Linked DNA regions of Homo sapiens: regions 2, 3, 4 and 5 are each linked to region 1. The links come from fine-mapping of genetic effects on gene expression. A gene starts in region 1. Each other region holds a variant in brackets. All regions are shown on one strand. Distances are between the middles of the regions. Region 1 holds the start of ADGRL1 (adhesion G protein-coupled receptor L1). Region 2 has its middle 23 kb from the start of ADGRL1. Region 3 overlaps ASF1B (anti-silencing function 1B histone chaperone). Region 4 has its middle 45 kb from the start of LINC01842. Region 5 overlaps ADGRL1 (adhesion G protein-coupled receptor L1).

Region 1 (5,124 bases):
CTGAGCGTCAAGTTCTGTTCCCTTTTCGGTACTGCTGGGTTTATAGAAAGCTGGCTGCCTGGAGTGCCCTCCATCTCAAAGCCTTCATGGGTCTTACTTGGTGCTGTCAATATCTCAAACTGGGAAATTGAGGCGTAGAGAGATGGGATGCCCTCCTCCATACCCAGTGGATCTGCAGTCAACCACAGATGGATGGGATCCGTTTTGCACTCACCAAATCCTACTTTATATTTGGTCCCCCAGATCCCGGTGTCCAACCTGGCCACCCAGATTCAAGGCTGGACAGCTTTGCAGCCATGAAATCCTGGGCATGAAGGAGGAACGAAAGTGACCCATCCCTCCATTTTGAAGTTCTCTGGGGCCAGATTTGCCTAGGTTCTGGCTTTCAAGAATCCCTTCCCCGTCGTGAAGAGACAGCTGTCCGTAGAAGGCGGTGGAGGGTGACAGGCTGCCACAGCAGTGGTGCGTGGTCACCCGGGCAGCCTGGAAGTCTGGTGTCCCTGCACTTCCTCCAGTTTAGCCACAGGGACGTGCTTCTAGGAAGGGATTCTTAGAGGCCAAGTTAATTCCCGTGCAGATATTCAATTCAGGCTTTCTTAGATACTCATTTTTCCCATCCAGATATGCCTCAAGTTTTGTGGATTTACCACTCCTACTCAGGAACCCTTTTCCCTTTCCTCATTCATTCTGCAAAGCGCATGGTTAGCAATGCACTCTCTTCCCTGGACATATAGGGAATGGGGGTTTCCCCCATCCCCATCCTCAGCCCGTCCCCCTCCTCTAAAACTCAGATCAGGGTTTGTCTGCCCTGCTGCTAAGATGCAGCCCAACTTTGAACTCTGAGCTGTCTGCTTTAACATTTGGGCCTCACTTGAATGGATTCCCTTCCCTGAGGATTCCAAGCCCTCCCCAGCCATCAGTCTTCCCATCTTTCATAAAATGGAGCCAGCAGCCCCGCTTCAGGGACTCCCCCCCTCCCCCCTGTTCCCTCCACTCCAGGATTCTTCCCACTTCCATTTCCCTCCAGCCCCCACCCTGCACAAAGTTGCCTGTTCTGCCGAAGTGCCTATTTTTGGCTTGGGGCCCAGTTTTATAGCCCCAGCTATAGGTCTTGGCAGTCATAACTTTCGCTCTCCAGAGAGCCAAGCCGGGTCCAACAGCCTTCCCCACCCCAGAGAGGGGGTGCGGGGGCTCCCTCTGCAGCCTCAACCCGAAACCTGCCCCTCGCCTCACTTGGTCTGATGCCTGGGAACCCAAGCCTGCTTCTTGCCCTACTTCTTAGAGTCCACCAGCTGCAATGGAGTTGTTAGGTGTTGAAAATCCATGCCGGGTTTTTACTCTTTTAGAGAACATAAAATTCAATTTTTCCCCTCGCACCCCCTCCCCAAAAGCAAGACTTTGAGGCGTTTACAGGTACAAACCTCCCCCTAACGCTTCCCTCCGCCCCTGCTGCCCGGTCAGCTCCAAGCCCCTGTCCCGGTGGCCCAGGATCTTCTGCTGAGGGTCTCATCCCGTCCCGCGCTCCAGTCCTGGCTTTGCGTGCCTCCCTCGCCTTTTATTGTAGGTCTGGTCTCCCAGGGTAGCGGCCTCATCGCATTCCCTTCGCAGCGCCCCTGGATCCAGAAACCGCTTTTACCTGTCCGCTCCGGTGCAGCCAGCGCGCCAAATCCCTTCGTACCCGAGTCCAGTCCTCCTTTTGCCCGTCCCCCTTGCACGTCGCTGCCAGGAAGATGAGGGCAGCCCAAGTCGCCTCAGCCACTAAGCATCCCCCTTCCAGAACCCCCCACCATGCGAACCCAGGTCCCGGGAGTTCCGGGCCGGGTCTTGCTTGTTTCCACTGCGTTAGGCCTGACGCATTACTCCGTCTCCCGAGAAAGAATCCGGCCCGAAATTTGCGTGCCCCGGGTGCATTTGGCCATGTCGCATCTACCCCCCAACCCCCCGCTCCAACACCGTTCCTCCCATCTTTATCTAATCCAACTCGGGTTTTGCACAACCCTTCCAGATCTCCCCATTTGCGCCCTCCTTCCCCGGGCTCGGCGCCTTTCCTTATACTTCACTGGAAAATCCGCTCCGGGTCTTCCTTACGCCTGTCTCCCTTCCCCCACTCCCCGCTCCAACGCGGGGCTCCAGCACGTCGCTTTCCCTCTCCCTGCTTTTCCAGGGAGGAGGCGAGAGGAGGCGAAAGGAAGGAAAGTCCAGCCCGGGTTTTCGGGCCGGCTCCTGGGGCGCTCAAGCGGGTTGCGGCGGCCAGTCCCGGGCGGCGACTCCGGGCCGGGTTTTGCGCGCGCCCACCGCCCCCCTCCCGGAGCGGGTGCGCCGGGGAGCGGGGCGAGCAGGCGGCTTGTCATTGCTGGTGCCCGGCGCCGGCTCGGTCCGCGCGTCCTGCGGTGCCCACGGGCCCGGCCCGGCGCCCCCCCTCCGGCCGCACCGGGGGCGCGACGCCGCGGCACCCGCCTCCAGCCGCGCCGCCCCCCTCCGCCAGCTCCGCGCCGCCCGCCCCCAACCCGAGCTCCCCGCGGCCACTGCGGGGAGCCCGAGCCGTCGGCGCGGGAGCTGTCGGCGCTGCGGTGCCCCCGCCCCGCCGTCTGCCGAGGAGGCCCCGGCTGATGGGGCCGCGCGGGCCCCGGAGCGGCGCCGCCGGGCGGCGGGGGCCTGCAGGGGCGCCCCGGCTGCCCCGTTAACCCCTCGTCCACCGCCGGCGTCGGAGGGGGCTGGGAAGTCGCCTGGGCGCACACGTGCCGCCTCCGTCGGGGCCGCGGAGCTGCGGGGGAGATGCGGGCCGCTGCCGGCGCCGCCTCGGGGCGCTCCGCCTCGCCCCAGCCCCCGGCGCTCTGACGCCGCCCCCGCCCCACCGCCTCCCTCCCCGGGAGGGGCGCAGACCCGATCGCCCCCAGTCCCGAGCCTCCGCCGCCGCGAGGGGGCCGCCTTTGGATCCGTGTAATCCGCCTCTTTTTTTTCTTTTCTTTTCTTTTTTTTTTTTTTTCCTAATTTTTGGTCGGCGGCGGTGCTGGGCCAGGGGAAGGAAGGGACACGGAGGCCGCCCTCGTCCCGCCACCTCCTACCCGCTTCCCCCCAGCCCCGGCTCCGGGAGATGTGCCGGGCGGGGGGCCCGGGTTCGCCGAGCCGCAGGAGAGACACGCTGGGCCGACCCCAGAGAGGCGCTGGACAGGTGAGTGTCTGCGGGCCCAGGGCGAGGGGCGAAGCCGCACCTGGGCCAGGTGTGCGGGGCGCGTGGAAGAGGGGAGGCGGGAAGGATGGGAGGCCGGGGCCTGTCCTGGCCGCGAGGGGGGAGGGGACACGGGAGCCGCGCGGGGCACCGCACCTGAGCGGGAGGGGCGTCGGGGGCAGCCCGCACCTCACCCCCACTGGCGAGGGGCCTGGGAGGGGCGGCCCCCACGGAGCGCCCGGGGCGCGGGGGTGCGGACGGGCTACCGCAGGGTGCCTGGCGGGGGGAGGGGACCGCGAGTGTGCCCGCGCGTGGCTGCGTGTGCCCGCGCGCGCGCCAGCCTTTGTGGGGAAGCGGCGCGGCGGTGCCTGCGTGTCCCCGGTGCGTGTGCGCGCGGGTGCTTGGCGCCCTGTTTGTGTAGGTGTCTGGGTGTGAGCGGAGGGGGTGCGTGTGCGCGCCGCGCGCCGGCCCCGCGCCCCAGAGGAGCCGTGTCGGGGGCTGGCACCACAGGATGCTGGGCGAGGGGGTTGTTTTTCTCTGGGAGGCAGTGGCGCGGGGGATGGGGAGGGGTCCGTCTGGGTGTCCAGCCGGCCGCAGTCCGGGGGGCGCCGCTGTCAGGAGGAGGGGGTGCAGCCGGGCAGCACCTTCTCTCCGTGGTGCCGGGTTAAAGCACGGGAGGCCGGCAGGTTTGATCCACTCGGATTATTCGTGCTTTGAGGACAGCTCCCCACCCCCACCCCAGGTGCGCATTGGATTGAGCTGCGAGGGTTTGGTTGTCATCCTCCCATCTGACGGTCCTGGGACCCGAGTCCAGGCCTGAAGTGGTGGGGTGGGGGGATGCTGTGTTTGCTCCAGCCGTGTCCAGAAAATGCCCTCCCAGGTATCTCTCCAGTGCACCCCTGGCCCCCATCTGAAGACAGCCGCTGGCTACACACACCCCTGTCTCTACACTTCCAGTCCGGGTCCTCACACTGCCCCATCCCTGGCCAACACCTCACTGTACCTGCCTGGACCCTTTCTTCCTGTTCCAACCCCCATCCACCCCCAGCCATGCCAGCTGCGTGGGTGTTTCTGTATCCCAGTTCCAGGCAGGGCCCCCCCTTCCGCCTGGCTTCCACCGGACTCAGAGCTGGGGTCTGTCTTCCCACATCCCACTTCCCAACATGTGTGCCTGGGGGCAGGAGGGGGAGGGGTTCAAAATGGCTGCCAAGATGGCTGGCTCGCGCGCTCTCTCTCTCTCTGTCTGTCTCTCTCTCTCTCTCTCTCTCTCTCTCACTCTCTCTGTCTTTCTCTATCTCTCTCTGTCTTTCTCTCTTCCCCTCTCTGCTTGCCCGGCTCCCTTATCCTGGTAGGGAGTCACTGCTTAGAGGAGGTCGGATCCAGTGGGGCACACCTGAGGGTGAATGTCTATTCCGGGCCGTTGACCTCCATGCTGTTTGGGGACAGACCATTGGTTTCTGCTTCTCTCTCCAACACCCCAAGGGCTGGCATGAGTCTAACCTGACCCCAGACCCCACTCCTTCACCCTGGCTCACAGCCTGAAAGCTCCGTGCCCTCCACCTGCTCTCCAGGGCCTGGCCCCCTGAATTGATCAACCCCACGGAGGGTCCACACCCCTCATTCTCTTCTCCTGTCTGCCCCCGGCAGGGGACTCTGCGTGGGTCCCTGTCAGGCCCCAGCTTTGGGGGGCAGGTGACTTCTCCTTCCTCCCTGCTCCCCTCCCACTAATGCCAAATTTATTACTTAAAAGTAGGATGAAAACAGGGAGAATAAGAGAAGGATTACAACCTTCATTATCATATCGAGAAAATTATCCGTGATTTTCCTAACTAGCAATTTGTCTGCCATGCCGTTCAGAACTGACTTGCCCATTAATTACAGAGATGAAAAATCATCTGGAATTCGGAAAAGGGAACTAATTCCATGGCTGGCAGCGATCGCACCCGTGCACGGAG
Region 2 (5,124 bases), 23 kb before region 1:
CCACGTTGGTCAGGCTGGTCTTAAACTCCTGACCTTCGGTGATCCACCTGCCTCAGCCTCCCAAAGTGCTGGGATTACAGGCGTGAGCCACCGCACCCGGCCAGGACACTTATTAATAGATTTAGAGCCCATTCTAATTCAGGATGATCTCATGTCAGGATTCTTCACATAAATACAACTTCAAAGACCCTTTGTCCAAATAAGATCACACGTACAGGCTCTGGGGGTTAGGATATGAATGTACATTTTTGGAGGACTGTCATTCAACCAACTGTAGGGAGTAAACGGATGGGGCTGGGGTGGGGAGATGACTTGGCAAGCCAAGTGCTTTGGTGTGAATGTTTGTGTCCCCCCAAATTTATATGTTGAAATCTTTTTTATCTTTTTTTTTTTTTTTTTTTGAGATGGAGTCTCATCACCCTGTTGCTCAGGCTGGAGTGCAGTGGCGCAATCTCGGCTCACTGCAAACTCCACCTCCTGAGTTCCAGTGATTCTCCAGCTTCAGCCTCCGGAGTAGCTGGGATTACAGGCGCCCACCACCATACCTGGCTGATTTTTGCATTTTTAGTAGGGATGGGGTTTTTGGTATGTTGCCCAGGCTGGTCTTAAACTCCTGAGCTCAAAGCAATCTGCTCACTTTGGCCTCCTAAAGTGCTGGGATTACAGGTGTGCACCACCATGCCTGGCCAATATATGTTGAAATCTTAACCCCCCAGGTCGTGGTGTTAAGAATTGGGGCCTATGGGAGATGAGGAGGGTGGAGACCTCGTGAATGGGACCTGTGCCTTCACACAAGAGGCTGGAGAGAGACCTCATGCCCTGTGAGATGAGAGGGCGAGAACGCTAACATCTTTGTCTATAAAAAGAGCCTGGCTGGGTGTGGTGGCTCATGCCTGTAATCCCAGCACTTTGGGAGGCCAAGGCAGGCAGATCACCTGAGGCCAGGAGTTTGAGACCAGCAAGTTCACCCATAGTGAAACCCTGTCTCTACTAAAAATACAAAAATTAACTGGCATGGTGGTGCATGCCTGTAATCCTATCTACTAGGGAGGTTGAGGCGGGAGAATCACTTGAACCCTGGAGGCGGAGGCTGCAGTAAGCCGAGATCACGCCACTGCACTCCAGCCTGGGCAACAGAGTGAGACCCTGTCTCAAAAAAAAAAAAAAAAAAGAAAAAAAAAAGTCTCAATGCCGGAGGAATGGAAGACTCTGCTCAGGAACAAGACAAAAGTCCTCAAGTCTCTGGCCACTCCCCACGCCATTCCCCAGGACCCCAGCATCCCCCGCCCCCACTATCCTTGGCTCCATGACTGTTCTCCCAGGTCAGAGCCCACATCACACTCTTTCAACCTCCAGAAGTTTGCCCAGGAAGTCTCTCCACCTGACTGGCCTTCCCTCCCACAACTCCCTCTGTCTGCCTATCCTTAAAGTAGCAGCCAGGGTGACCCTTCTGAAGGGGGTTTGGGTTATGCCAAGATCTCTTCTTCCCTCCCCTCCCCTCCCCTCCCCTTCCCTTTCCTTCCTTTCTCTTCTGACAGAGTCTCACTCTGTCCCTCAGGCTGAAATGCAGTGGCACAATCTCGGCTCACTCCAACCCCCGCCTCCCAGGTTCAAGGAATTCTCCTGCCTCCTCCTGAGTAGGTGGGATTACAGGCATGAGCCACCACCCCTGGCTAATTTTTGTATTTTTAGTAGAGACGGGGTTTCACCATGTTGGCCAGTTTGGTCTCGAACTCCTGGCCTCAAGTGATCCACCCACTTCGGCCACCCAAAGTTCTGGGATTACAGGCATGAACCACCATGCCCAGCCTTCTTTTCTTTTTGAGATGGGATCTTTTTCTGTGGCCCAGGCTGGAGTACAATGGCATGATCATAGCTCACTGCAGCCTCAAATTCTTAGGTCCAAGTGATCCTCTTGCCTCAGCCTCCCAAGTAGCTGGGACTAGAAGGCATGTGCCACCACGCCCAGCTAATTTTTAAATTTTTTTTTAGAGTTGGTGGTCTTGCTATGTTGTCCAGGCTGGTCCCAAACTCCTGGCCTCAAGCGATCCTCCTGCCTCAGCCTCCCAAAGTGCTGGGATTGTAGCTGTGAGCCACCATGCTCAGCCCAGCCCTGCCAAGATCCGTTTTCCATTCCCGTGGCACTCAACAGTCTCCTCAGAGCAGTTTCCACAATTGTAATTACCTAGTTTGGCAGAGTGATGTCTTAATGTTGCTCTCTCTGCTTCTAGAATGTGAGCCCCCAGAGAGGTCAGGGCCTGGGAGATTTATTCATTTACATATCCCACGCACCTAGTCAGGCATAGCACACAGTTAGTGCTTAATATATGTGCCCAGGAGGTTTGCAAATGAATCCCTTTCGGCCAGGCACGGCGGCTCACGCCTGTAATCCCAGCACTTTGGGAGGCCAAGGTGAGTAGATCACTTGAGGTCAGGAGTTCAAGATCAGCCCGGCCAATATGGCGAAACTCTGTCTCTACTTAAAATACAAAACTTAGCCAGGCATGCTGGCGGGCGCCTGTAATCCCAGCTACTCAGGAGGTTGAGGCAGAAGAATCGCTTGAACCAGGGAGGTGGAGATTGCAGTGAGCCGGGATTGCACCACTGCACTCCAGCCTGGGCAATAGAGCAAGACTCAGTCTCAAAAAAAAAAAAAAAAAAAAAAAAAAAAAGGAATCCCTTTTGTCCAGGCAAGTGGGATGCACTGGTTCTCTGACCAGCAATTCCCCAATTCCCCAACTGGAC[G/A]GGTCACTTGGTGTCCCAGTGGAATATTCGGGAATCTTCTCTAAGGCAACAGGACACACACACACACACACACACACGCACAATCACACACACACACACAAAATGAACCCCCCCTCCTCAATTTCTTTACCAACTATTTTTCCCCCCAGGCAGAAAATGAACCATTATTAAAACAACACGGCAACCGGCCGGGAAAACCCATTTACAGCGATTTATATCGCTTCGCTGCGGCTGCCGAGAGGAAATGGGAGGAGAAGCTCGAGGTTTAAGCACTGGGTGAAAAATCACATTCCATCAGAGGAAGAACAGATGGGTGTTTTTTTCCTCCCCTTTCTCCCCCTTGCTTGGGCTCGGAGTCAGGAATCTATGTCAGCCGTGGGTTTGTTCTTGGTGTGATAGGGTGATTCTGGGGAGACAGAGGCCCAGCCAGGCTGCTGGGTCCCAGGGAGCAAGCGGTGGCTTGTGAGCCACTGAGGACCCCCGCTCCCCATCCTCCATCCTCCTGCCCACCCGCTCTGTCTCCTGGGCCTGTAGGCTGCCGATCTGAGCCCCATCCCCCATCCTGCTATTTTAATTTTTACATTTTCTCATCACCCCCTGGAATTACCGTCTCTCCTTATTTCCTTCCTCCTTCACAGTCTTTTTCCTTGAAGGCAGGGCCATGTCTGTCCTGTTCGTCGTTGCATCCTTAGTGCATTGAACACATAGCAGTGGCTCCCATATCTGCAGACAACCACTAACCCTCTGCCACGGTCCCACCATCACGGCTGCCATCCTATCCTAACCTTACTAAGGACACCTTCCCCCTCTCCCCGGCGGCTGTGAGCGCGCTGGAAGACGGGGGCTGTTTAGTTTGTTTCCTTCATGGATGGATCTACTGTCCCTCCACCCCCAAAGAAAGCCTGATTCACAGCTTTCTGGGTGTTGGGATTGGGGGATGGGGACAGACAGGCATGACTGAGTCATTCAGCTGTTTAAAAGCTATCACTGACTTCTTCAAAATTGAAAAATGTTATCGTGGCTCCAAAGGTCCTTTCCAACCTAGACCCAAAACACCTGTTCAGTTTAAACCACGCCCCCTCCACCGCGCCAGCCCCGACAAACATGCTGGCACCCGCCTAGGCACCACCTAGTCAAACCCCCTGGCCCATGTGGTCCCCAACTCACCCATGATGCTTTGCATCGCCTTCACTAAATGCCCCGCCCCTCCCTCTGTGTCCGCCCCAGAGCTGAATCCAGCCCACAGATGTAATTGGCTTGGTCCATGCAGGCTTTAAAAACATTTTGTAATGACTTGCTAGCTTTTATTTATTTATTTATTTATTTATTTATTTATTTATTTATTTATTTATTTTTGAGATGGAGTCCCACTCTGTCACCCAGGCTGGAGTGCAGTGGCGCGATCTTGGCTCACTGCAAGCTCTGCCTTGCGGGTTCACGCCATTCTCCTGCCTCAGCCTCCCGAGTAGCTGGGACTACAGGCGCCCCCCACCACGCCCGGCTAATTTTTTGTATTTTTAGTAGAGACGGGGTTTCACCGTGTTAGCCAGGATGGTCTCGATCTTCTGACCTTGTGATCTGCCCACCTCGGCCTCCCAAAGTGCTGGGATTACAGGCGTGAGCCACCGCGCCCGGCCCATGACTTGCTAGCTTTTAAATACAGGCTGCTTTTTCATTGTTGTTGTTGTTGTTTTTGTTTTTGAGATGGCGTCTCGCTGTGTCGCCCAGGCTGTAGTGCAGTGGTGTGATCTCTGCTCACTGCAACCTCTGCCTCCTAGGTTCAAGCGATTCTCCTGCCTCAGCCTCCCAAGTAGCTGGGATTACAGGCAAAGGCCACCAGGCCCAGCTAGTTTTTTTCTATTTTTAGTAGAGGCAGGGTTTCACCATGTTGGTCAGGCGGCCTTGAGCTCTTGAACTCAAGTGATTCGCCCCCCTCAGCCTCCCAAAGTGCTGGGATTACAGGCCTGAGCCACCAGTGCCAGACCTCAGGTGATTTTTGCATAAAAATCTGGATGCCTGACTTCCTCTAAAGATGAAATCTTGTCTGGGCGTGGTGGCTCATGCCTGTAATCCCAGCACTTTGGGAGGCCTAGATGGGCAGATCACCTGAGGTCAGGAGTTCGAGACCAGCCTGGCCAACATGGCAAAACCTTGTCTCTACTAAAAATGCAAAAATTAGCCAGGTGTGGTGGCACGTGCTTGTAATCCCAGCTACTCGGGAAGCTGAGGCAGGAGAATTGCTTGAACCTGGGAGACGGAGGTTGCAGTGAACCGAGATTGTGCCACTGCACTCCAACCTGGGTGACACAGCAAGACTTGTCTCAAAAAAAAAAAAAAAACACAACTGAATTAAATGAGTTCATGCTATATAAGGAACGG
Region 3 (5,124 bases), 81 kb after region 1:
TGAGGCAGGAGAATCACTTGAACCCGGGAGGCAGAGGTTGCAGTGAGCCGAGATCTCACCATTGCACTCTAGCCTGGACAACAAGAGTGAAACTGTCAAAAAAAAAAAGTGTTTGGAGGATCACCCCGGGATGCCACATTTGTTGACTGAGTTGCCCAAATGTCTCTAAGTAGGCATGACTTGGTGCCAGATCTGGAAGACCAGGGTGGCTGGCTCCCTGAGCAACCTCACCTTCCCCCTCCTGCAGGCTGGCTCTCCTGCCGGATTGGAATCTGCCACCCTGCCCCAGTTGTCGAGGGATCCACTTCGTTGAGTGGCACCGGTCCCTGTGTGTGAAAGAGGATGCTGCTTCCTATCCCAGCACCCAGTGGGCAGGGCCCTGAAATGACCCAACTCCCTGCCGTTCCCTTCTCAGCACGTCTGTGTCACGTGGCTCTTAATTCAGCCTCTGCCATACAGTTCACGCTCAGGCCTTGAGAGGCCCAGGTTTCCCCAGAGGTATAGTCAAGGTCACCTGTCATAGCTAGGCTTACAAGACAGAATTCCCTAATGGAGGTAGAGCTTTGTGCCCACCTCAGCATTCAAGACTGCAGTGCCTGGCACTAAGTGTCTGACAGATGGAATAATAGTCTTTTAACATATTAAGGATCTGTCTAAAATTACCACAAGGCTGGGCACAGCAGCCCACACCTGTGATCCCAACATGGTGGGAGTCCGAGGCAGGAGGATCGCTTGAGCCCAGGAGGTTGAGGCTACAGTGAGCCATGAACATCCCGCTGCACACCAGCCTAGGCAACAGAGGGAGACTGTCTCAAAAAATAAGTAAATAAAAATAAAATAGAAGATGTGGCCGGGCGCAGTGGCTCACACCTGTAATCCCACCAGTTTGGAAGGCTGAGGCGGGCAGATCACTTGAAGTCAGGAGTTGGATACCAGCTTGGCCAACATGGTGAAACCCCATCTCTACTAAAAATACAAAAACAGGCCAGGTACAGTGGCTCACACCTGTCATCCCAGCACTTTGGGAGGCCAAGGCGGGTGGATCACCTGAGGTCAGGAGTTCTAAACCAGCCTGATCAACATGGTGAAACCCTGTCTCTACTAAAAATAAAAAAATTAGCCAGCCATGATGGCAGGTGCCTGTAATTCCAGCTACTCAGTAGGCTGAGACAGGAGAATCGCTTGAACCTGGGAGGCAGAGATTGCAGTGAGCCAAGATCACACCATTGTACTCCAACCTGGGTGACAAGAGTGAAACTCCATCTCAAAAAAGAAAAAAAAAATTAGCTAGGCGTGGCAGCGGGCACCTATAATCCCAGCCACTCGGGAGGCTGAGGTATGAGAATCACTGGAACCTGGGAGGCGGAAGTTGCAGTGAGCTGAGATCGCATCACTGTATTCTAACCTGTGTGACAGAACGAGACTCCATCTCAAAAAAAAAAAAAAATACAAGAGCCTATCCCTGCCTTCTTGCTGTTGAGCTATTTCAATTAGTTAACCCTCCTATATCTTTGCAGACCTGGAGTGGAAGATCATTTATGTTGGCTCGGCTGAGAGTGAGGAATTTGATCAGATCCTAGACTCGGTGCTGGTGGGCCCTGTGCCAGCAGGGAGACACATGTTTGTCTTTCAGGTAAGAAAGATGAGGCCTTAGGCCTTAGCCCTTGATTCCTAGAAACATCCTCTTTTACCTGAAATCCCACAGAGTGCTTCAGGAATCAAAAGTTCAAGTTCAGCTGGGCACGGGCTCACGCCTATAGACCCAGCTACTCCAGGGACTGAGGTGAGAGGATTGCTTGAGCCCGGGAGTCTGAGGCTGCAGTGAGCCACTGCACTCCAGCCTAGGCAACACAGTGAGACCCTGTCTCTAAAAAAGAAAAAAACAAGTATTAAAAACATAGAGGCCGGGCACAGTTGCTCACACCTGTAATCCCAGCACTTTGGGAGGCCGAGGTGGGAGGATTGCTTGAGGCCAGGAGTTTGAGACCAGCTGGGGCAATATAGTGAGACCGCATCTCTACAAAAAATGTAAAAATCAGCAGAGCATGGTGGTGTGCGCCTGTAGTCTCAGATACTTGGGAGGCTGAAATGGGAGGATCACTTGAGCCTGGGAGATGGAAGCTACAATGAGCCAAGACCACACCACTGCACTCCAGCCTGGGCAACAGTAAGACCCAGTCTCAATCAATCAATTAAAACAATTTAAAAGTTCAGGTTCAAATCCTAGTTCTACTGTCAGGAACTATCTGACCTCTCAGAGGCCGTCAGGCCCTCCCTTCCCCCACCTCTGTGTCAAAGCTGCCACTGATTTACAGGCAATTCCCATTATTTACAAGAGTTACGTTCTATAAAGTTGCCGCGAACACTGAATTAGTGAATACTGAACCATTGCCCCAGGGGAAATACAGGGTTAGATTCTTGGAAGTCACATTTTCGTCAGCTGGTTAATACGTAAACTTGTATGTGTGTTTATGTT[G/A]AAAAGACACCAGGACGGCTATGATGGCTCAAACCTGTAATCCCAGCACTTTGGGAGGCTGAGGTGGGTGGATCGCCTGAGGTCAGGAGTTCAAGACCAGCCTGGCCAATGTGATGAAACCCCGTCTCTACTAAAAATACAAAAATCAGCCAGGTGTGGTGGCGCATGCCTGTAATCCCAGCTACTCGGGAGGCTGCGGCGGGAGAATCGCTTGAACCTGGGAGATGGAGATTGCAGTGAGCTGAGATCGCACCAGTGCACTCTAGCCTGGGTGATACAGCGATACTCTGTCTCAGAAAAAAAGGAAAGATACCTTATTTAATATATACAGTGGTTCATTTATGTTGAATTCACAGCCAACAGCACTATAACTCTCCTGAATGAAACTTCTCTAATACGCATATTTTCCATAAAGCCTTTCTTGTATCCTACACTGCACTTCAGCACTACCGTTGGGTGCCATCATAGACAGCAAACTCACCAACAAAAAGCACAAAACATGGAAAAAAGCACTAAGTAGGCTGAGGAAAGGACGCTCATTCACAGTGAGAGCTGAGACCAGAAGACAGAGTGTTGCCTTGTTTGACCTCAGGTGGGAACAGGCGTGGTAGGTAACTCTAGGTGGGAACAGGCATGGTAGGTAACTCCAGTTTTTCCCTGCTCTGTGCATGTCTGCAAGTGACTGTGAAAGCAAGCAGGTGTTCATCTTGGGGTTACAAATAAACTTAGCAGGTAGGTGAACTTGCACATATGGAACCCATGAATAATGAGGATGGACTGTAACTCCTAAATGGCTCTCATGCAGCACCCCACCTGGGTTGTCAAATGTAGATTCTGGCCGGGTGTGGTGGCTTCCAGCACTTTGGGAGGCAGAGGCGGGAGGACTGCTTAAGGCCAGGAGTTCCAGACTAGCCTGGGCCACATAGCGAGACCCCCATCTCTACAAAAAATAGAAAAATTAGCCGGGTGTGGTGGCTTGCACCTGTCGTCCCAGCTACTTGGGAGGCTGAAGCAGGAGGCTTGCTTGAGCCTGAGAGTTTGAGGCTACAGCGAGCTATGATTGCACCTCTGCACTGCATTCTGGGTGACAGCGAGACCTGTCTCTACAAAAAAAACATTAACCAGGCATAGTGATGCAGGCCTGTAGTGCCAGCTACTAGGGAGGCTGAAGCAGAAGACTCACTTGAGGCCAGGTGCCATGGCTCACACCTGTAATCTCAACACTTTGGGAGGCTGGGGCAGGCAGATCACTTGGGGTCAGGAGTTAAAGACTAGCCTGGCCAACATGGTGAAACCCTGTCTCTACTAAAAAATACAAAAATTAGCTGGATGTGGTGGTGCACATTTGTTATCCTAGCTACTCGGGAGGCTGAGGCACGAGAATTATTTGAATCCAGGGGGCGGAAGTTACAGTGAGCTGAGATTGCGCCACTGCACTCGAGCCTGGGCAACAGAGTGAGACCCTGTCTCTAAAAAAAAAAAAAAAAAAAAATAGGCTCGCTTGAGCCCAGGAGTTCCAGGAGTTTACAGTGATCTGTGATTGCACCACTGCACTCCAGTCTGGATGACAGAGGGAAAAGCTATCTCTTTAAAAAAAGAAGGCCGGTGCAGTGGCTCACGCCTGTAATCCCAGCACTTTGGAAGGCCAAGGTGGGCGGATCACAAGGTCAGGAGATTGAGACCATCTTGGCTAACATGGTGAAGCCCCATCTCTACTAAAAAATACAAGAAATTAGCCAGGCCTGGTGGCGGGCACCTGTAGTCTCAGCTACTCAGGAGGCTGAGGCAGGAGAATGGCGTGAACCTGGGAGGCGGAGCTTGCAGTGAGCCGAGATCACGCCACTGCACTCCAGCCTGGGTGACAGTGAGACTCCATCTCAAAAAAAAAAAAAAAAAAAAAGAAGAAAGAAAAAACAAATGGAGATTCTGAGTTCTCCAGGTGATTTTTCAGGATCCTCTGCTCGGATACACTCCCTTACCTCCATCACTGCTGTTACCGCCCTAATCCAAGCTACCACATCCTATCTAACCCCTTCAGCCACCACTACTAAATCCACTGACAGGCCCTATCTACTCAACAGTCAGGACTGGCCTCCTGGGTGTGCAACCCAGGCAGCTGCACAGGACCCCACACTTGGTGCGATACTCTGCTGTCACCGTCTGAAACCTAATAGCTTTTCTGGAGGGGCGTGGTGTTTTCATTTTGCATTGGTTTTATTTTGCACCAATTACGTGGCTGGTCTTGTTTGCAGTAGTACACCCTGAATCTGTTCTTTACTGCCTGGTCTAAGCCAAGTCCACTGCCTCTCCAGGATGACTGGTGTAAGCCTTCTGCTCCACTACAGTCTCCTGTCACGGCTCCACACTTTGCCAGAGGCTTCTTTTCAGATCACAAGAGTGATGTGGCACTTAACCTCCTGCTTACTCTCTTGCCCTTTCCCAATCCCTTAGCTGGCCCCCGGGTGGCCTGATACCACCTGCCTCACCTGTTCAGCTTCATGCCACTGTCCCCCGGCTCACCACACTCCTCCAGAGTACCACGCACCTCTCCCTGCCACAGTCAACGTTTTGTAGTCATTTGTGGGATTGATTCTGTGTTTCCATCAGTTGACAACTCCTGGCTGGGCACAGTGACTCACACCTGTAAT
Region 4 (5,124 bases), 82 kb before region 1:
TGGTGAAACCCCGTCTCTACTAAAAATAAAAAAAAAATTAGCTGGGCATGGTGGCACGTGCCTGTAGTCCCAGCTACTCGGGAGGCTGAGGCAGGAGAATTCCTTGAACCTGGGAGGCGGAGGTTGCAGTGAGCCAAGATTGTGCACTGCACTCTAGCCTGGGTGACAGAGCGAGACTCCATCTCAAAAAAAAAAAAAATCCAATTCCAACCTATACAAGGCAGCAGCTGTGAGGTGACACAAGTATGAACCCCATTAAGTCCCCTCAAAAGCCAGAATCTTGGATTTCTTTCACAAGTGAATGACCCCCCCCCAATCTTGAAGGAAAATCATTCTAGCAGCAAATCCTAGACAGGACTTACTATCAGCCAGATATTGCCATCTGCCTTAACTGGTTTAATCCTGACAGTGAACCCCAATGATGTAGAAAATGTTACCACCATTTTTTTTTTTTAAATACGGAGTCTCGCTCTGTCCCCCAGGCTGGAGTGCAGTAGTGCAATCTCGGCTCACTGCAACCTCTGACTCCTGGGTTCAAGTGATTCTACTGCTTCAGCCTCCCAAGTAGCTGGGATTACAGGGGCACACCACCACACCTGGCTAATTTTTATATTTTTAGTAGAGATTTTTATATATTTGCCATGTTGGCCAGGCTGGTCTCGAAGTCCTGACCTCAGGTGATCTGCCTGCCGCAGCCTCCCAAAGTGCTGGGATTACAGGCATGAGCCACCATGCCCGGCTGTTATCACCATTTTACAGGTGGTGAAACCAAGACACAGAACAATGCAGTGGCTCCCACGTGTGGATAAGAAGTAGCTTGTGGATTTGAACCCAGGACACCTTGTCTGTGCATTGAGCCAGGCCGATCTGCACCCAGGCACCTGCCCAGGTAGATGCAGGGCCTGTGAGATTCTTCCAAGGCCTCCCATTTTGATGGGGTCCCCAGGCCTCCAGGCCTGCACTGGAGCTGGTCTGCTTCCAGGTGGAGCCAATGGAGGGTCCTGGTGCGGGGGAGTCGGCGTTGGCGGGTGATTGATGGTTTAATATCTCGCGCTGCGACCCGGGCCCCTCCTCGCCCACGCCTCTGCGGGCGGCCCCCAGTGAGAGGTGGAGATGGGATAATTCGGTTACCAAAAAGAGAATGAAAATTCCAGAGAGAGAAAGAGACAGAGAAAGAGGTGCAGACCAGGGAGTGAGCTGGGAGCTGATTTGGCAGGGCTGGGCTTGGATGGGAGGGAGGAGGCCGACTCTCAAATCCGGAATCCCTCTGGGGGCCTGGGGACTCACAGGTCCCAGCCGTCTTCAACTCCCATCTGACTTCCTGTCTTGAGAACAGAGACAGCAGATATGACAAGTGAGAGGTCACAGGCAGGGGCAAGGCCTCAGAGGAGAGGGAAGCATGTGGCCTCCGCCTGGGACAACTGCTGGCAGGTGAGGCCAAGGGGAGGTAGGGACTAGTGGAGTTGGGGTGGAGGGAACAGGAGACTCCAAGTTCCCAGCTCAGAGGCTTCTGGTCATCCTTGACTCGAGTCCTCTCTCTCTTTTTTTTTTTTTTTTAGATGGAGTCTTACTCTGTCTTCCAGGCTGGAGTGCAATGGCATAGTCTAGGCTCACTGCAACCTCCGCCTCCCGGGTTCGAGCAAGTCTGCTGTCTCAGCCTCCTGAGTAGCTGGGACTACAGGCGTGCAGCACCACACCTGGCTATTTTTTGTATTTTTGGTACAGACGGTGTTTCACTGTGTTGGCCAGGCTGGTCTCGAACTCCTGACCTCAAGTGATTCTCCCACCTTGGCCTCCCAAAGTGCTGGGATTACAGGCGTGAGCCACCGTGCCCCGCTGGAGTCCTCTCTTTTTTTCTCTTTCCATCCACGTTCAAACCTCGGACTTCATTTCTTCCCCACCTCCCCGGCCCTCACTTGGTCCAGCCCAGCATCCCTCACCTGGTCCAGCCCAGCATCCCTCACCTGGACTGTGCAGTTCCCTCTACCCTTGCTCAGGTCTCCAGCCTGGCCCTGAAGCCTGTTCCCTCCGCAGCCTCCAGAGGGCGCGAGCGAACACCTGATCAGGCCACGCCCCCTCCTCCCGCTCAGAACC[G/C]GGAAAGCTCCCACCTTGTGTTAATTTCCCATGGTTGCCGTCACTAGCTAGCATTTATTTAACGACGCAAATTATCCTACAGCTCTAGAGGTCAGAGATGTGGTTCAGGGTCTCACCTGCCTAAGACCAAGATGTCAGCAGGCTGCAGTCCTTTCTTGGAGGTTTTAGGGGATGATCTATTTTTTGCTCATTTAGGGGTGCAAGATTCAGTTCCCTGGGGTTGTAGAACTGAGGCCCTGTTTTCTTGCTGGTTGTCCATTCCCCGTTTCTAGAAGTTGCCTGCATTCCTTGGCTCGTGGGCCCTCCCTCCATTTTCAAAGCCAGCAATGACGAGTCAAGTCCTTCTCATATGACAGCCTTCAACTCCCCTCTGCCGCCCCCTTGCATTTTAAGGACTTGTGTGATTAGATGATCCAAGGTCATTTCCCTGTCTGAAGATCCTTAATTACCTAATCAGCAAAGTCCCTTTTGTTGCATGAGGTAGCAATTCACTAACCCTGCTTCTCAGGGCCTGGCTGTGTCCAAAGGAGTCTTTCTCCTTTAGACACTTTTAAGTGTCTGACCTGTCTTCTGCCTCTCCCTGGGCACCTGCTCCCTGCTCAGCCTGCCTCTCCCGCAATTCAAGCCAGTCATATGCTTGACACTCCTCCAGGAAGCCTCCCTGAAGTACCCATGTTTATCAACCCGCTGGAGCAGTTACCAGCCCCTTTCTCCTATCCTCCCCAGGCCATGAGATCTTGAAAGTTTAGGATGAGGAAGTAGATACCTTGGGAAGGAGGGCATTATTCTCCTTACCAACTGCCTCACTCAGAGCAAAACTCCAGTCCTCACGGAGGCCAGAAAACCCAGCTTTCTCCAAGCAGATGGGCCTCCTTACTGTTCTCCAAACTCACCAAAGACATCCTGCCTCAGGGCCTTTGCACAGGCTGTTCCCTCTGCCTGAGTCATCCTCCCCAGATATCCACATGGCTCCTCCCTCACCTCCTCCAGGTCTCCCTTCACTTGTGCCCCTCCCCAGGGAAGCCTTCTCTGATGCACACACACCCAATTTACAACATCCACAGACTCTTATTGCTTTTTTTTTTTTTTTTTTTTTGAGACGGGGTCTCGCGCTGTTGCTCAGGCTGGAGTGCAATGGCGTGCTCTCAGCTCACTGCAACCTCCACCTCCGAGTGCAAGTGATTCTCCTGCCTCAGCCTACCGAGTAGCTGGGATTACAGGCATGCTCCATGACACCTGGCTAATTTTTGTATTTTTAGTAGAGACAGGGTTTTGCCATGCTGACCAGGCTGGTTTTGAACTCCTAGCCTCAAGTGATCCGCCCGCCTCGGCCTACCAAAGTGCTGGGATTACAGGCCTGAGGCTGCTGTATTTTCTCCATTGCACTGGCTGCTTTTGGCTACAACACAGAATATTCATTCCTTGTTCATCTTGTCATCGCCCAGGTCTCCCACTGGAAAGTCAGCTCCAAAAGGGAAGTTCCTCCACACTGTTCCCTCCTGGCTCTGTATGCCGCCCCCTTCCCTGGCCCTTGGCATACAGCAGGTGCTCAATAAGTGTTAGGGCTGGGCGCAGTGGCTCACACCTGTAACTACCAGCACTTTGAGAGGCCAAGCGGACAGATTTGAGCCCAGGAGTTCAAGACCAGCCTGGCCAACATGGCAAAACCCCGTCTTTACTAAAAATACAAAAATTATCCAGGTGTGGTGATGCATGCCTGTAATCCCAACTATTCGAGAGGCTGAGAAATGAGAATTGCTTAAACCTGGGAGGCAGAGGCTGCAGTGAGCAGTGATCGTGCCACTGCACTCCAGCATGGGCGACAGAGCGAGACTGTGTCTCAAAAAATAATAATAATAAGTGTTTGTTGAGTGAATGGATGGCAGGCAGGCAGGGCCCCAGCCCAGAGGAGGATGGGGACCCAGTGGAAGGTGGGAGCGGCAGGTGGAGAGGGATTGGTGTGGAGATGGTAGAGAAAAAGACCTTCTAGAACAATCCTGGGGGTCAGGTGGTCCCTGTGATGAAATGAACCAGCATTGTGTGAATTCCGGTCAAGGGCTGATCTGTCATGATCTCTATAACATGCTTTTCACAGGGAAATGTGTCCCCCCTGCCCCGCAATCCCCTTGATAAAATCTTAGCCTTATGACTTTGTTCTCTGTTCATCTCAGATAACAGATGTTCCTGGAGTCGCCTTAGTCACAGGGCAGCTTGGCTTCAATTCAAAACAAGGAATGTCCAGACCCAAGCTGGGGCCTTGATTTAGACTTCAATCCTATTTCCTTCTACCTCTCCTCCATCCCCACCAGCGTCATGTTCTGGGGGTCTGGGTGGTGCTAGGGCCCCTTCCTTCTTGCTTTCCTCTCCTTTCCTTTCACGGCCAGGGCTGCAGCTCCAGGAGGGAATATAGTGTGTCAAATGGTGGCCCCCCAAAAGGATGTGTCCACACTCTGGCCCCTGCAACCTGTGAATGTGATGTTTTTATATTATTATTATTTTTTTTTTTTTGAGATGAAGTCTTGCTCTTGTCTCCCAACTGGAGTGCAGTGGCGCAATCAAGGCTCGCTGCAACTTCCGCCTCCCGGGTTCAAGCGATTCTCCTGCCTCAGCCTCCTGAGTAGCTGGGATTACAGGCGCCTGCCACCACGTCCGCCTAATTTTTGTATTTTTAGGAGAGACGGGCTTTCCCCATGTTGGCCAGGCTGGTCTCAAACTCCTGATCTCAGATGATCTGCCTGCCTCGGCCTCCCAAAGTGCTGGGATTACAGGCATGAGCCACCACGCCTGGCCAACTTATTTTTTTTTTAAAGACATGGTCTTGCTCTGTCACTCAGGGTGGCCAGAGAGCAATGGCATGATTTTGGCTCACTGCAGCCTCGACTTCCCAGGCTCAAGTGATCTTCCCACCTCAGCCTTCCAAGTAGCTGGGACCACAGGCACGCAACACCGTGCCTGGCTAATTTTTGTATTTTTTTGCAGAGAGAGATTCTTGCTATGTTTCCCGGGCTGGTCTCAAGGTCCTGGCCTTGA
Region 5 (5,000 bases), 38 kb after region 1:
TGTGCGGATGCGGGCCCTTCTCGCATGAGTGAGTGAGGAGGAGACACCTTGACCCATCACACATGTGCACACATGCATGGGGCCTGGGCACAGTGGGGACAGCCGGGCCTGCTCTCTCCAACACACATTCTCTAATCCCAGACACCAGTGTCCACACTCAGTGCCTGCTCCCCCGCCTCACAGACTCTGTCCCCTCCTGTGGGGACACCTTCTCCAGCTCTCCTTACCCCAGCCCACTCACCCTGCTTCTTCATGCACCCTATACTCATTTCCACACTGCCAGGCCATGGTCCCGTGCTCTGCCTGGCACACTTACGTCTCTCTCTTCTCCCTTGGCCTCTATGCTTTTCTCCCCCATCTGCCTCCCTCGCCTTCTCACATCCCTTCCTTTTCTGACTCTTCTGACCTTTTCTGACCCTTCTCATCTACCTTCTCTTCCCTCTCACTTACCCCACTGCCCCTCTCAACACCGTTCTCTCAGCACCCTCACTCCCCACACACTTCTTCCCAATCATGGAAGCTGGACTCTACACCCATAGAGTGGGATACCATCCTCTGAGGCCTGGTGGCAGATTCAGGGTGAAGGGCTGGGGGGCATTTTCAACAGATTCATAGCTCCTCACTGGTCTCCCCATTACCATGTGGCACTTCCTGTCTGCAAAGGAAATGCCGCCATGTTGGACTGAGGGTGGCCTCCAGGCAGCCTGAAGAAAGTGATTTGGGGAGCCAGGAGCCTGGCCATCTTGCACCTGGCCAAAGGGATCAGACAAAGACAAGGTCTCTCCTCCTCAGCACCCCACCCTTGACATCACCTTTTTCCTGCCCTCTCTCCTCCCTCCCTCCTTCCCATTATCCCTTCCCTTCTCCTCCCACAATGGGTTCCATGTAGTCAACCTGGTGGTAGGGCCTCCGGGAAGAGTGGGGAGAAGGCAGGGCCATCAGGGTGTCTGAGTGTGGCGGGCCGGGTTTGGGGACTAAGAGGCCCTGTAACTCTCCCTCCTCTCCCCTCCCACCCCAACCTTCCCTGCCAGCCTTTGATTTCTCCTCACAGGTGACTCGATGCTGGGGAAACAGGATCCCTTCTGTGCTTCCGTAATTTTCTTCTTTTACTCTTCGTCCTTTCCTTTCAGCGCTTGAGGCCTTCAGCCACCACCGAGGGGGATGCCCATCTGCTCCTTGAAGCCTCCCCACAGCACTGGGGACACGGCTGACTCCCGCGGCTGGGACAGCGGGGAAGGGGGGTGGGAGGCAGCGAGCTCAGCACAGGGGGGCAGTCAGATGGGTGTAGGTTCAAGGCTCGACTGGGCTCTTGAGTTTTCTGGCTCTGAAACCTTGAGCAAATGATTTAATTTCTCTGGGCCACTACGGAAGGAGGTGTGAGTCCATGAGATGACATGTGAGAAGCGCTTGGCCCAGGGCCGGCCACAAAGTCGCTCCTGGTGGCAGGGTTTTGAGTGCCGAGTGTAAACTTCCCAAGGGCAGAGGCTTCGTCTTCACCCGCCGCCCCAGCGCCCAGACCCATGCCTGGTTCAGGATGTGCTCAGTAATATTACCAATGCCCTTTAAGCCAGCTGAGCCTGTTTATTCATCTGTGATGGGGTGGAGAGGGGTCAAAAGCCTTCCCTGGGAAGCCACAAGGAGTAGCGACAACGCATGTCAAGCTTGTGTGCACCCGAGCTGTAGATGCAAAGGAAATGGTGCCTGCTTTCGCCAGCCATGTGGCCTCACTTCAGTGTGCCTCAGTTTTCCCATCTGTAGACAGGGTTCTCAAAAGACGGCCAGTGAGGTGCGTAGCATAGTTGCTGGCCCCTCGTGAGTGCTGGACACTTGGTAGTCGTTGCTTTTGTTGCAGCTCCTTGTAATGCCTCTTGTCAATTACGATTATTGCTGTGGTAATCAAAATTAAAATAACAACGGATAATGACCCAACTTCTCCCGAGGCAGGTGAGATAAAGGGCAGGAAAAATTCCTCGGTCCAGGTGGAAGCCAAAGCAAGTAGACGAGAGGCTCAGGTCAAGCCGCAGGAAAGAAGCTAGGGGAGGAGAGGAGCTGAGAAACCTCCTGGAGCCGAGGCCCTGAGCGTGGTCCAGGGGCTACAACCGACAGAGACCAGGCAGGCTCCAGGGACAGAGGGCAGGACAGTTCAGAGGATGAGTGGCTGCCTGTCTGATGGAAGAGAGATAGCCTGAGCCCTTGGGGAGACAGGAGACACACGCACACACACACACGCGCAGACATGTGTGCACACATACGGGGTGGATGTTGGGGGCAGAGCTAACTCCTGATGCTCCAGAGGAAGGAGGCTGGAGTTAAAGCGGGGACAGGAGGTAGCTAGAGGACAGGGAGGCCAGGCACTCACTTGTCCCCAAAATGTTCACTGAGCATCTCCTGAGTGCCAGGCCCTGGGTGAGGCGCTGGGAAGGGAGGCAGAGGCTGCCCCTGCGGAGCTCCCTGCTGGAACCTTCAGAGAGGGGCCAGGAGAGCCAGTCCCTCCAGTCAGAAGTTCCTGAGGGGCCAGGGATGCAGAGGGGGAGCGGCCTGGGCAGCCACCTGGCCCAGGGCTTCAGAGGCTGGGGGTGACCCCAGTGCTGGTGAGGGTGGGTCAGGGGTGGGTGGCAGGGGGCACGTGATGTGTGGGAACCCTCCCACACAGTGGACAAGCCCGACTAATGCTGGATTTGCTTTGCAGCTGAGCACAGTCTAACCGCGCCCCTTCCTCCCCTAGGTGCCGCCC[G/A]TCCGCAGGGCAGCGGGCAGGGCGGAGCTCCCAGCTCCTGGGCCCCCGGGCCCTGGGTGGGTTGAGCAGAGAAGCCGAGCCTCAGACTTGCCCCTGGGGAGCCTGGGAGCGTGTCTGTGCCCCCACTTGCTGTCCCACCCAGTCTGTGTCCCCCACCCCCGCCACCTCTCTGCCTCCGTCTCCCCAACCCTGGCTCTCTCTGGGGCCCGGGTGCAACTGCCCGTCTGCCTGTCGTTCTGTGTCTGGCTCTGCCACCTTCTCTCTGTGTTTGCTTCTTCTGGGTTGTGAGGGCTTGGGGGAAGTCAGCTGGACCTGGGTGAGGCCAGCATAAAGGGGAAGGAGTTCAGCCTGTTTCTTGGCTGAGGGTGGGCCCAGGCCCTGGGAGACACTGAAATCCTTCCCCTGGGGCCCCTGGTTCTAGCAGGAGGGCAGCAGGCAGGGTGGGAAGGGAGCCGAGTGGCTTATCCACCCCACCACTCCCTGGTGCCCCCTCTGACCGGAGCCCACCTCCCAGCTGGGGCTCCCTACTCCCTGCCCCCGCCTTGCACCAAGGGTGCCCCCTCCCACCTGAGGGCTCTGTCTGCCTGCCTGTACCCCCCTACCACCCCTGTGTCTTTCTGTGTCTTCTCCCTCCTGTGTGTGTCCCCCTCGTCCCTCTGACTGTCTCCCCAGCACCCTCTCACCCCACCTGACCACCCCCAGAGGAAGGGACCTGGGGGCGGGGGCCCGAGCTGATGCTACGGAAGGGGTTGGGGAAGCAGGAGCGAGGAAGGAAAGGAAAAGGGGGCGTGTTGCCAGAAAAGAAACGAAAGCAATTTAATCTCTTTTTTTTTCTCTTTTTTTCTTGCACATTTTTTTTTTCAATTTGTTTTCTCTCTCTCTTCCGATGCTTAAAGTAGAAGTGGAGCAGAAAGGTAAACGCACTGTTACCAATGCTAACCCCTAACTCACACTTTGTTCTACCTGTACCATACTTATGTGACCTGCCCTCCCCCGGCCCCTTCTTCTCTCCCCAACCCACACTTGGTCCGGTCGGTATCCCCCACCCTGGGTTGTCCTCCCAGTGGGACCAGCCCTGGTGCGGCCACGGGCATCTCCACCCTCCAGATACCCACGGAAGCTCCTCTCTGAGCTTGGGCAGGATTTTCTCTCTCTCGCTGTTTCTGTCTCTCTCTGTCCCTCCTTCCTGGTCCCTGGCCCTTTCGGGGGACCTGGCCTTTTCTCATACTTCTTTTGCCTCCTTCAGGAGAAGTGTATAAGCATCCAGGGCGGGTGGGGAGGGAGGGACTCCCTTCCCCGGCTCCCCCACTGGGGCACCGGGTGAGCTGTCTCTCTCTCTCTCTCTCTTTCTCTCTCTCTCTCTCTCTGTCTCTCCCCTCTCTCTTCCTCCTTCCCCTGTACCTTTTATAACATGTTTCTGGTTCATGGGAGGCGGGCTGGAGGGGACACCATTGTTTTCCTTTTGGGGAGCAGATTCTCCTATGTCTCGGGCTCCTGGTGGCTTAAGTTCCTTCTGGTTTGATGTTTCCAAGGCCCAGAGCTGTTTTGGAGCATGGAGCACCAGTCCTCCCCACCCCCAACCTGATCCCCATCTCTGACCAGCTGGGGGCCCAGCCCTGGGGAGGGGTGTCAGCTGTCCCCAGCCCTGGGAGGGGGCAGCCTGCCAAAAAATGAAAAAATGAGGGCGAGGGGGCGGGGGCGGGCCTCGTGGTTGGGGGAGCGAAGGGTGGGGGAGCGTGTTCTCTGTTTCTTTCACACTTGCAAAGCTGCAGTCAGGGTTTCTTCTGGGCTGTTGTGGTTAGAGGACCAGGGAGATGGGCGGCGGGCGGCGGGGGCACAGTCTGGGGACTTCCACAGACTCCGTAATTTCTAGCAGAGAACTCCCTAGTGGATGGGGCTGGCCATTACTGGCTGTTATTGGGGGGAGCGGAGGTGCTGCTGCTGAGGGGCTTCTAGGGTGAGATGTTAGGGATGACCATTTCCTCTCCAGAAAGTTTTGGGAAATTTACCCATCTGAGGCCGGCAGCAGCAGGCAGGGCTGGAGGACATGGCCTTTAGGGATCCCTTTTGCCTTGAAATTACAGTGGTCTGTGGAGCATCCCTTCCGAAGGAGGTGGGGCAGGGTCCCTCTGAGCTGCTCCCCTCCCCGTCTTCCCCTCTCCCCCATCTCAGAGAGGCCTGGGCTGCTGGCCCCAGGTCCGCCCCCTCACCACACCCCTCCAGTCTCCTCTCTTTCTCCTGGAGTCTCTCTCCCTCCCAGCACCAG

The links. PIP is the estimated chance that this variant, and not a neighbour inherited with it, causes the effect.
Region 2: its variant is fine-mapped to the expression of ADGRL1 in subcutaneous fat (GTEx, PIP 0.99).
Region 3: its variant is fine-mapped to the expression of ADGRL1 in whole blood (INTERVAL, PIP above 0.99).
Region 4: its variant is fine-mapped to the expression of ADGRL1 in whole blood (TOPMed, PIP above 0.99).
Region 5: its variant is fine-mapped to the expression of ADGRL1 in whole blood (TOPMed, PIP above 0.99). The same link has a PIP of 0.9 or more in T cells and blood mononuclear cells.

The regions. Positions count from the first base shown.
Region 1 is chr19:14,204,033-14,209,156 of GRCh38, reverse strand. ADGRL1 (adhesion G protein-coupled receptor L1) reads left to right here and starts at 2,988. Exons shown (of 23, transcript NM_014921.5): 1 at 2,988-3,172. RefSeq lists silencers at 2,195-2,294, 2,315-2,374.
Region 2 is chr19:14,226,733-14,231,856 of GRCh38, reverse strand. No RefSeq gene overlaps it. Among named protein-coding and RNA genes, the nearest start is that of ADGRL1, 23 kb to the right of the region's middle. The variant G/A (reference allele first, on the strand shown) is at 2,746.
Region 3 is chr19:14,122,631-14,127,754 of GRCh38, reverse strand. It overlaps ASF1B (anti-silencing function 1B histone chaperone), which reads left to right. Exons shown (of 4, transcript NM_018154.3): 2 at 1,518-1,633. Among named protein-coding and RNA genes, the nearest start is that of PRKACA, 7.4 kb to the right of the region's middle. The variant G/A (reference allele first, on the strand shown) is at 2,477.
Region 4 is chr19:14,285,934-14,291,057 of GRCh38, reverse strand. No RefSeq gene overlaps it. Among named protein-coding and RNA genes, the nearest start is that of LINC01842, 45 kb to the left of the region's middle. The variant G/C (reference allele first, on the strand shown) is at 2,095.
Region 5 is chr19:14,165,664-14,170,663 of GRCh38, reverse strand. All of the region lies in intron 4 of ADGRL1 (adhesion G protein-coupled receptor L1), which reads left to right. It overlaps ADGRL1-AS1 (ADGRL1 antisense RNA 1), which reads right to left. Exons shown (of 3, transcript NR_045214.1): 3 at 1-1,887. Among named protein-coding and RNA genes, the nearest start is that of ADGRL1-AS1, 31 kb to the right of the region's middle. RefSeq lists a silencer at 2,654-2,843 and an enhancer at 2,714-3,213. The variant G/A (reference allele first, on the strand shown) is at 2,735.